Regions from separate parts of the Homo sapiens genome. Here region 1 is linked to region 2. Evidence: fine-mapped expression QTL. A gene starts in region 2. The other region holds a variant in brackets. All regions are shown on one strand. Distances are from middle to middle.

The links. PIP is the estimated chance that this variant, and not a neighbour inherited with it, causes the effect.
Region 1: its variant is fine-mapped to the expression of CHL1 in blood mononuclear cells (TOPMed, PIP 0.98).

Annotation. Positions count from the first base shown.
Region 1 is chr3:216,695-219,607 of GRCh38, forward strand. The region is part of intron 1 of CHL1 (cell adhesion molecule L1 like); the gene reads left to right. Among named protein-coding and RNA genes, the nearest start is that of CHL1-AS2, 21 kb to the left of the region's middle. The variant G/A (reference allele first, on the strand shown) is at 1,409.
Region 2 is chr3:195,257-198,169 of GRCh38, forward strand. It overlaps CHL1 (cell adhesion molecule L1 like), which reads left to right and starts at 1,507. Exons shown (of 28, transcript NM_006614.4): 1 at 1,507-1,807. CHL1-AS2 (CHL1 antisense RNA 2) reads right to left here and starts at 2,085. Exons shown (of 4, transcript NR_144487.1): 1 at 1,711-2,085; 2 at 1,200-1,252; 3 at 740-784; 4 at 502-658.

The DNA.
Region 1 (2,913 bases), 21 kb after region 2:
TGGCCAAAGTGAACTCTACATTTTTAAGAGAGGCTGCTAAATATGGCCAATCACAACAGAAAACTAGCATTTCTCCAATTTGGCAGTGGTTTCTGGATGGCACACCCAGACTTACTTCCTTAAGCAATGCTGATATATGGAAATGCCATGATAGAGGCTCAGAAGCTAACACTGAATTCAGCAGTGCAGAAAAACTCCAAATCATGTGGTTCTTCTTTGTCAATATTTTCACTAAGGCAGCATAAGATATTAAATCACCTGGAATTAGTTATGTGCCATTTCAGCAACCTTTTGTGCTCAGTCTGCTACAAGCTGCTTGTGCTGATTAGCAGTTTAAAAGTCTGCAGGGGAAGGAAATTTTCAGTAGCTTGATTTTCCCCCACCCTTTGGTCCTGTGTGCATTGGGGAAGAAATTACCTTCTGTGCAATTCCTGAATAATTTGGTTTGATTATTAATAGATTCATGCTGAAAAAAGAACAATAACAGAAAAAAAATTACCCATGGGGTTGCAGCTGTGCTCCCAGATACAAAACAGGGAAAGAAAACAGGTCTCTCCAAGCAAAGGGTATATGTGTATACGTGTGTGTGCATGTGTAGCTCTGATTCTAAGAAGCCATTGGTTCATTTATTCATGCATCAAATATTTATTGAGCTGCGAACAAATCCCAGGCACTGTGAGGAAGACAGATTTCCTGCCCTCCCAGAGTTGCCATTACTAAGAATGTTAGCCAATAAATAAATCTTTACGGGAAAGAAACAAAGGACTGTGATAGAAAAAAATGGGAGGAGAAACTTACTTTAGAAAGGATTATCTGAGAAGGTGCCTTTCACGCTGAGCCAGAAAGGGAAGAAGGCAAACAGGAAAAGAGCCAGAAGAGCAGAGTTCCCAGCAGAGGGGAAGCAAGTGGAGAGGCGGTGTGGAGGAATCAATTTGGCCCCATCTGGAATGGACAGAAGGCTAGAACCTGCAGTGCAGTGAGTGTGGGAGAAACCAGCTGGCACAAGGTGAGCTTAGGGCAGATCACATAAGGCCTTGTAGGTCATGGACAACAATATGGATTTAAGTGCAGTATAGGAACTTCAAAGGAATTCCAACAGTTAAGCTAGTTGATGTAATTTGTGTCTATATGTATATATATTTATATATACAAACAAAACAAACCTTGGCTGTTGCATGCAGAGTAGATTGCAATGGAGAGGAGGACCAGTTGGTATTCCGCAAGGGAGATAAGAACAGCTTAGGCTTGAATGAGGATGTGATAAAGGGGATTTTATGAGCAAGGCTGTTTTATTATTTTATTTATTGTACTTCTATTAAGATGATATGGGTGCTTTGGGGGCTGTTGTAAATTATAACCCACAGCCCCTGCACAGGAAACCTCCACAGGAAACAATCAAAGAATAAGT[G/A]GTTGTGAGATGACAAGGTTTACGATACGTGTTTTCAGGCTTCTTAATAGCAGAGTGATTGGGTGATTTCCAAAAGACCTCAGGGCTGGGATGGGTGAAATTTTGTGAGCTTCTGGATTGGATGAGGGTGTGCTCTTGCAGAAAGAATTCCTGAATACTTTCTGCACTGACAGAACCTGCTTATTAATTCTTACAGCAGTTATGTTTTAGAAGATGAAAGACCCTTTCCATTCAATTATTGATCATAAGCATGATGTGTGTTGATTAAAATGGCATGATAATGGTATCAAATGGAGTTTGGATATCTTTTTCCTTAATATACTTTTGTGTATCATATTTAAGTTTCCTCAAGTCAGTAGAGAAGATGTTACCCACATCCTCTTTTCCAAAGAAGGAATCATTTGATCATTGAAAGGTTTACTGAATAGAAAATAAATTATGTTGACTTTAGCACAAATTCCTGCCCTAAGTTTTAGCCCATATATTGATGATGTCAAGTGCTGCTAAATGTGTTCTTCTTCTATAAAAATTAAAGTTTAAGCTTTGGATGCTAACTTTCAAATCTATGTGAAATGATATGATTTATTGTGATATAAAGAATGACATAAAGAACAAAATAATACTTTTTTAAATTTATGAGGAAAAAGACAACAGAAAGGAAAAATGGGCAAAGAAAGAGAACACGTTTCATGCAAATCAAAACCACAATGAGATACCATTTCGCACCGGTCAGAATGGTTATAATTGAAAAGTCAAAAAGTAGGCCGGGCGCACTGGCTCACACCTGTAATCCCAGCACTTTGGGAGGCCAAGACGGGCGGATCACGAGGTCAGGAGATCGAGACCGTCCTGGCTAACACGGTGAAACCCCGTCAGTAAATAAAAAATACAAAAAAATTAGCTGGGCATGGTGGCGGGCACCTGTAGTCCCAGCTACTCCAGAGGCTGAGGCAGGAGAATGGCATGAACCCGGGAGGTGGAGCTTGCAGTGAGCCGAGATCATGCCACTGCACTCCAGCCTGGGCGACAGAGTGAGACTCTGTCAAAAAAAAAAAGGTCAAAAAATAAAAGATGCAGGTGAGGTTGTGTGGAGAAAAAGGAAGAGAAAGTACACTGTTAGCGGGGGTGTAAATTAGGTCAACCGTTGTAGAAGACAGTGTGGTGACTCCTCAAAGACCTGAAGACAGAAATACCATTCAATCCTGCAATCCCATTACTATATATATTCCCAAAGGAATATAAATTTTTACATTATGTTAAAAAGACACATTCATATGTATGTTCATTGCAGCACTATTCACAATAGCAAAGACATAAAATCAACCTAAATGCCCATCAATGACATCAATAACAGACTGGATAAAGGAAATGTAGTACATATGCACCATGGACTATTATGCAGCCATTAAAAAAGAATGAGATCATGTCCTTTGCATGGACATGGATGGAGCTGGAGGCTATTATCCTTAGCAAACTAATGCAGGACCTAATGCAGGAAAACCAAA
Region 2 (2,913 bases):
GTGATTGATTAAATAGTAGCTGCTCAATAAATATTTGTTTTGTAAATAATGATTCTATTGTCAAGAAACAAATCACCAAGAAAGAAGGAGCTATATATTTAAGAGTACTCTGTTCATCTGGCCAAAATGGAGTTCCGAGTCCCTTGCTCAGCTGATGTTTGTTCACCCAGAAGATGGTAAACTCCTGAGACCAACTTCGCTTTGTTGTTCTCTTGTGGTTCCTTGACCTTGGAAATGTTTTTCTACAGGCAGAGTATTTCCCCCTGTTGGAATTTTATTTAATATTCTATCTTTGTTTCTACTTTAGAAAACATGCCACGTGAATAATGATGCCTCAGGCAAAAGAAATCACTCCAGCAGTACAATTTAAACTTAGGACAAATCCTGCCCTCACTTGCATTCACAATTTGCCAAGGCAGTTGGTAAGAACTGTGCCCACACACAAATTGACAGAATCGAGGCCCCAAGGTTAGCGATGATTAAAATTTAAAAGTCCATTCATTCATTTTCAAAATATTTTATTCGATTGCTTCTGAGGCAGAATCATGAGTTGCCTTCGCTTTTGCTGCTCCCGGTGGTGGCATCCAACTCTGAGGATAGCTCATCCAACTCTGAGGGTAGCTCTGAGGGGAGCTAAATATCCTCATTGTTCAATGAGCTAGATGAAAACAAAACGAGGCTGTAAGGTCAATCTCACAGCCTTAGTGGAGTAAAAATTAGAAGTCAATAATTCTCTTACCAACAAAGAGGACTTGCATTCAACAGGATTTTCAAAAGTGGTATCCTGTAAAAATTTTGGAAAATACCACCATAATGGAAAAAAAATAAAGTGGCATATAAATCAAATGTAGTGCTAAAAATTATAATTTTTCCATATGAATTTTGGAATCCTAAAATATTTTTATGTGTTTGTGGATTCATAAGGCATCAGAACTGGCTTTTTGCACTGAATATGAGTACAGAAGGCTTTCCTCTCCAATAGTGAATTAATAAAGGATAAGTAGGAAAAACGTTACGAAACGATGTGGTAACATTATAGACTCTGTATTAGGGCAAAAATTGTGAGATAGTAGAAGATCTGTAAATTTAAGCATGCACAATTTGACAGCGGATGGTCGTAGCATATTTTGTAAATTCAATAGCAAGCCCCACCACGCCCTTAAATGAAGGAAAGCAAGAAGACAATTTTTAATACGTACATGGCACCACACCCCTCTAAGACGCAGCAATGGGAGAAAAGCAGATTGGCGACCTGTGTGTGCAACATGAACCGAGTGAAACCATCGGGGAGGGGGTGGGGGGCGTTTCTTTTAAATGTCGCTTTTGCAGATAAACGAGCAGGGATCCTACCTCTTTTGACCGGAGATGTTGAAAAGCACGACCAAAGTTTTTGGCTTGGTCTCTTGCTTTCCACAACGAGATAAAGTCTGAAGCCTGTAACTCTCCCTGTCCCGCGGGAGCGTGCAAAGGGAGGGAAGATAAGCGGCGTGGGTGAGGGGTGGCGGCGCAGAACCCAGGAAGGGAGCAGAGGCGAGAGCCAGCCTCCGGCAGGAGGGCGTAGACCCCGGTGCCAGCCAGAACGGCTCCAGCCTTCCCGCGGCCAGAGAGCCAGCGGCGGGAGGGGACGGGCGGGACCTCCGCGGACAGCCCCGGGTGCGGACCAGCGGGCAGCGGCCGGCGAGACCCTCCCTGGATCCGCCCAGAGCTTACCGGACCCTGCGCGCCCCCGTCCCGGCTCCCGGCCGGCTCGGGGGAGAAGGCGCCCGAGGGGAGGCGCCGGACAGATCGCGTTTCGGAGGCGGCGCAGGTGTGTCAGGGGTGGGGGTCCGCTGGCATCTCTCGTGCCGGCGCTGGGGGGGTCTCCCGTGGAGGAAGGGCTGAAGGTGCTCCGGGAGGGGTCCACTCGTTATGGAAAGGAAGCGGGGCGCGGTCAGGGTCCCTCGTCCGCAGTGGGGGTGGTCCGGGCCCCTCAGCCTGCACCCGGGAGGAGACGCCCCCTTTTCACGCCCCGCCCCCGGTGGCCGAGGCCGGATTCGGACAGCTCGGGGTCAGTCGACGGAGCACACCGGGCGCCCGAATCCGCCGGGTCCCACTCACGCCCGCCGGCCGCCGGTAGGTTGGCCCTCCCGCTTCCAGCCTCCGCCACCCCATCCCTCGCTGCTCTCTGAGGAGGATTCCAGACCCCCCCGTAGATCTCCGCCCTCTCTCGGGTGGGGCTCCGAGGTCTAGCTGGTCTGGGGGTCAGTCCCGGCCTCTGTCTCCCACCGCGCCCCTCGCTCCCCTGGACACCGCCTGGTGTGTGGGGCTCAGACCCCCCCAGTCCACTGCCCCTGTGTGGCTCCTCCTCTCAGGAGAGGATTCTAGATCCCAGCCCGGGGGGGGTTCCGAAAATGCCGCCAGCCTGGAGCGGGGAATCCATGGACCGTGGGGTTGTGGGGTTGGGGAGCACGAAAACCCAGAGAGGGGCTAGAGCTCCACCTCCCCAGACCGCCGAGGGGCGAGAGGGCGCGCCGGGGGCCGTGGTTGCCATGGCTCCTGGTAGCGGAGCCCGGGGGGCTGGAGATGCCGGTCGCGGATGGTCCCTTCTTCCTCTTTGTGCCTCTCTCTTTCTCTCGCTTTTTTTTTTTTTTTGGAGTGTGAGTGTGCGTGGGGAGGCAGCACGGAGAAAGTGATTAATTTGGGGAGCAGGGATTGGAGCCGGGAGGCTGGGGAAAGCCAGCCCCTCCGTTCCCACTCTCCGGGCTCGCTGCGAGCCACAGTGTCTCAGCCAGGGGCAGGGCCGGGGAACTCCTGCGAAAAACCACGGGCCGGAGGAGCAGCAGCCGCGCGGGCCCAGGTACCCCCGCCCCAGACGGCCAGCAGGGTGGAGCGCAGGGTGGGCGTTTGGGCTGCTGGGCGGGAAGGCGGGCGGGG